Regions from separate parts of the Homo sapiens genome. Here region 2 is linked to region 1. A link means that fine-mapping ties the variant in region 1 to the expression of a gene that starts in the linked region. Tissue or cell type: whole blood. Region 1 holds a variant in brackets; the other region holds the start of a gene. All regions are shown on one strand. Distances are between the middles of the regions.

Region 1 (2,689 bases):
AGAAGTATTTCTATGGTCACCACTCATCAACACAAATATTTATCTTTTTCCTCTCAACTTTGGCCTGTAGAGTTTCTATTCCATCTTGAAATAAAACTGCTTCCAGCACGTGGGTGATGGGGCAAAACACTCATCTTAGAAGCTCCACTCTACCAGCCCTAAATGCTAGAGGGAAAGTCATAGACAAACTCGAACTATATTTTAATCTTCTAATATGAATGTTAAAAACTAGAAATTGAAAAGTCATTTGTATTTTTTCCTTAGATTAACCTTTTTTTTGGTTGAAGGGCTAATGTCCAGAACTTGGCTTGCCATGTTTGCACAGCCATTTGTCACTATTTTCATATCACTTTCAATTTATTTTGCACTACCAAGTGGCTACTTTTAACAGGTTCTGTGGCTTGAAATAATTTGATTTATCATAAGGCTTCTCAAACTTCATTTGGCATAAACTTTATTGGAAATGACTGTACTATGATATCAAACATTGAACAATGATGTGATAAAGAATATGCATTTTTACTATAAGTAAACAAACAACACAATTAAAAATAAGCTGACATTCCCAAAATGAACACACAGTTTAAAAGACTATCCTTAATCTTAATGAAAGAAATTAAGATCTCTGTAATAAAAAAATAAACTACTGGGCAAATAACTTGCTATGTACAGATTATTTTAACTAGTTTCCTAGATGATCTATATACAAAAATTGAAAAGGGACAGTGTTGGTTAGGCAGTGGCTCATGCCTGTAATCCCAGCACTTTGGGAGGCCGAGGCAGGAAGATTGCTTGAGCCCAGGTGTTCAAGATCAGCCAGAGAAACACAGTGAGACCCCATCTCTTTTTTTTTTTTTTTTTAAGACAGAGTCTTGCTCTGTCACCCAGGCTGGAGTGCAGTGGCACGATCTTGGCTCACTGCAACCTCCGCCGCCTGAGTTCAAACAATTCTCATGCCTCAGCCTCCCAGGTAGCTGGCACTACCGGCGTGCACCACCACTTCCAGCTAATTTTTCGTATTTTAGTAGAGAGGGGGTTTCACCATGTTGTCCAGGCTGGTCTTGAACTCCAGAGCTCAGGCAATCCACCCACCTTGGCCTCCCAAAGTGCTTGGATTACAGGCATGAGCCATGGCGCCTGGCCTGAGACCCCACCTCTACAAAAAAATTAGAAAAAGAAACAAAGAAAAAAAAAGAAAAGGGATAATGTCTAGGTAACTAGTTAATTTATTAATGTAATAGATTCTAGGGCTCAACAAAAAACTTGAATGTCTAATTACTCTGCATTTGAGGAAGCAAAATAAAGTAACAACAAAAGCAGAGACATTTAAGGAAATGAAATAAGGAA[T/C]CAAAACATAAGAGTCAGCAATGGAGATGGCTTGTCATAGTGCACAAACCATAGTGAATACTTAAAGATACATTTTACTGTGTTTCTCAGCCTCCCTGAGATTCATTCAACAGTTTGGAGTCTTCATCAAGTTAAACAACAAACAAAGCAACAACAAAAAAAGCCTTTCAGAAAAATACTTAAAGTCAACCAAATTACCTACTGAACTTTGCCCTAAAATTTGCACTAGACACTATGATTTTATCACTTTTTAAAGGGATACAACAAAGTTTTTTAAAAGAATTTCCAGAGGGCATAAAGTGTTTCCAAAAGTGAGGAAAAGAAGTCTATAATCATGTAAGCATTACTTATTTAGCCATTGCAAATTAAGATGATCAGATATCTCCATAAAATGGGAATTATTAATTTAAAATTTTATACTAACATGCCTACACATTTTCCCATCCTCCCTCCCTCCTTTTCTCCTTCCCTCTCTTTCTCTCTCTTTTCTAAAATCTGGGGCTACAGAGGAGTGAGTTAGTTTGTTTGCTTGTTTGTTTTGAGACACAGTCTTGCTCTGTCTCCCAGGCTGGAGTGCAGTGGCGCAATCTCAGCTCACTGCAACCTCCGCCTCCTGGGTTCAAGCGATTCTCCTGCCTCAGCCTCCCGAGTAGCTGGGACTACAGGGGCATGCACAGAGATTTTTCATCTTCCTTTAAATTCTGGTGCCAAAGTAACCAAACCAACGTGGAGCAAGATTAGCTGGGAACATGTAAACCCTCTGCAGAATTTTATTTATCACAATTTCTACAGGGAGTGGCATGAAAAAATTAAGAATCCACAGTGGAGATGTTCAAGGCATCTTCACGTGTAATAGCAATATTCATCAATAAAAAGATTCATCAACAGGGAAGGATATGTTGTGGTACATTCATGCCATGGAATACTATGAAACAAAATAACAAATTACTGACACATGAAAGTACATAGTTTATGGTTCCATTCACATGAAGGTAATAGCAGAGTTTACCAGGGAGGAGTTATTGGTTGGGAAAGGGCCCCAGGAGCCTTCTGTGGGCTAAAAATGTGCTAGATCTTGAGTTGAGTGAAGTATACAGGTATATCAATGCATAAACATTCATTGAGGTATAATATGATTTGCACACTTTCCTGTATCTAGGTTGTTCCACAATTTAAAATTTCAATAATGAAATTAAAGAAAAATTCACAATAGAGGGAAAAAAGTCCAAGTTAGAAAGCCGCCACCAAAATGCCAACAGGTTCAACAAAGTGGAATTCTCAAGAAAGAGAATTCCCGCTTTAAAAAGTACAGAGAAATAACCCCCTTCCCCAGGGGTTGAAA
Region 2 (2,689 bases), 46 kb before region 1:
AGAAAACAAATACAAACCTATTCTAGTTTTGCTCCAAGAATGACTCAGTTCCAATGTAAAATTAGAGGACTTAACAGCAAAAGGCATAAATAAAAGTTTCTTTTAAAAAACAGTATAACCTACCATACTTTTTGTTTTTTTCTAACATGTGTTTTGTGTCACTGTTACTTAGAATAGGTACTCGAGTGAACGACCCTTCCAACGGAGGGCTTCAGGTTCTGCAGTGATATTTCTTCCTCGTGCCAGATCCTTAGTACAGCCCATGTGGACAGGCTCCCACGTGAACATTTCTTTACAGAAGCCACAGGAAGACCTTGAACGTCATGTTGCTCGCGCCCTGGCAAGGCCCCCGCCCTTCTTAGCTGGGGCGTTCGAGGGACCCCAGGAGAGGCAAGGAGTTCAGCAGATTCCCAGACCCGGAGAGGCGGTGCGCGAAGGTTCCTCTACGCGATCCCCCTGCCGCGCCCCACATCGCTCTCCACCTAAGGGCTTTCCGGAACAAAGCCGTGCGGCCGCGCCACCTCCGGCCCACCCGGCCTGTCCCACCGACCCGGCCCCACCCTCACCCTCAGCTCCAGGGACCCCCAGCAGGCCGAGATCTTCACACCCCCGCGCTCCGCCTCGGCTTTTCGGTTGGTCCGGGAGAAAACTAGTAGGAGCAGAGGCGCCGCCGTCCGTTAGCCTCGGTCCGGAACAGCGGTGCCGAGGCTCCATCCCGGGGTCCCCTCGCCCCATTACAGACCAGAGAGAAGGACTGGAGAAGAAAAAACCGGGGCGCTGGTCGCCAAGCCCCCGAAGACCTGCCTACAGATCCCCAAAGCCTCGCCCGCCCGCGCCTGCGACGCCATCCGCGGCCGGCGCGCAGCCCCCTAACCGCCGCCACCCGCCCAGCGGTCACTCCCCCACCCCGGGCGCGGCCCGCGAGGCTCCGCCAACCTCCACAGGAAGGTGAGGGGGGCGCGAGGCTCCGCACGCGAAGTGGATGCCGCCGGCTCCCGATCCCGCGGCCCGCAGCAGCCCAGACCGCACACGAGGAGCCGCGGCGCCCAACACTCTGCCCACCACGCGCTCTGCTTCGGCTGGCCGCCGCCGACTGCAGCAGCTGCGGGAACCCCAGCGCCCGCATCCCCGAGGGAACCAGCCCCGACTCCCCGGTTCTGTTCTCCCTTTCTACCCCCACGCCGTCCCGGGACTCGCAGTCTCCGCCGCGCACGGGGCCGGTTCTGGGGGAGGGAATGTAAACAAATCGGGGTTTTATAGTTACCTCACACTCGAGTGCCGTGTGCATCTCCTCTCCGCTCGGTACCAAACCCCGGCTGCACCAAATCGTGTATTCACCAAAGCAGACTGCGCTAACTGCGTCGCAGAAACCGGCGCGTCTGACACCCTGCTACGCTTGCGGCGTACAAGGTCCACTCAGCTCCCTGCGCAGCCGCACCCCGTCCGCCTATGGGTGCTACGCTATGGGCGTACACGCGCCACCTAGCTATTCACTTCGGATAACGCCAGTTGCGTAAAGGAGTCGCACTACTCACGGATTCCACATGGATCGTCCGAGGAATAGGAAATTCAAGTCTACGCAAACTGCGGAGTTCCGTGGCTCCGCGCTAGTTTTGTTCCAAGAAAGAACGCCGCGGGGGAGTTGGGGCGGCTTCTTAACGCATGCGTGGAGCGCCCTTTATCATTCGCCTTTTCTCCTGGCTTTCGAACGTCGGTTGCTGAGGCCTTGGGCAAGGCGAATGAGTAATGGAAGCTCTAAACCCAAACGCTTTAGCCAAAAAGCTTCAGAGTGATCAACTGGAATGTTCATCTGTATACGAGTTAAACATCTACGTTAAGTTAACCCCGCCCCCTTTGTTAAAGTAACCTTTTCAGTCTCTTAGGGCAACAGCGAACTTTATTTAGTGCTAAGTGCGAGGTGTTTTGCCTAGCTCCCCTTCCCACCCATTTAATTCTAAAGCACACTTACTGCGGGTCTTCCAAACCTAAAAGAAAAAGTTGAGTCCTGAGAACATGTCACACATGTAGAGAAATTCTCGAGGCTTTTGGCAACTTTCCAAGGTCTTCACTCCTCTACTCCTCAACTGATCGACTATTTCTTAACACTCTATGACAAAAAAATCCCGATCCAGCCAAGCAGTTCCATGGACTTGTGCCTACACCGTGCTCATTCTTGCCCTTTGCTCACGCCATACATCCCATCTAAATTGTCTCCTCCCCTCTTAAGCAACCACCAACCCACATTTTCTTAAAAGGTGACTCTGGACGTCTTATTTTTGCTTCATTACTCTGCTTCCTGGCTCTTACTTAATCCACATGTTGAGGCGTATCTGCATTCCGCCTGGGGTGCCTGTGTTTCTATATCCAACCAGAATCTACTTAACACAGCGAGTTCTGGGGGTGCCTTACTGGTGTCTAGTAGAGAAAATAAAACCATGAACAGCAGTAATCGCAGGCTTGACTGTGTGTCAAGTACTCCACATATATATTAATTTAATCACCATAACACGGTGAGGTAGGAAACTGAGGCACACAAGACTTTAACTTGCCTGGTATCACAGAGCAGGTAGAGAAAAGAGTTGGGATTTCCAAACCCATTCAGTATGGACGGCTAGGTAGTCCCGCTAACCTGCATATTATACCTTCATGAAAGAAGGTTATTTTTTGTTTTGTATCTCTACAAAAAACA

The links. PIP is the estimated chance that this variant, and not a neighbour inherited with it, causes the effect.
Region 2: SLC39A10 starts here. The variant in region 1 is fine-mapped to the expression of SLC39A10 in whole blood (TOPMed, PIP 0.92).

What each region holds. Positions count from the first base shown.
Region 1 is chr2:195,609,571-195,612,259 of GRCh38, reverse strand. No RefSeq gene overlaps it. Among named protein-coding and RNA genes, the nearest start is that of LINC01827, 36 kb to the right of the region's middle. The variant T/C (reference allele first, on the strand shown) is at 1,348.
Region 2 is chr2:195,655,857-195,658,545 of GRCh38, reverse strand. It overlaps SLC39A10 (solute carrier family 39 member 10), which reads right to left and starts at 1,320. Exons shown (of 10, transcript NM_020342.3): 1 at 1,265-1,320. RefSeq lists silencers at 552-651, 852-971, 1,002-1,051.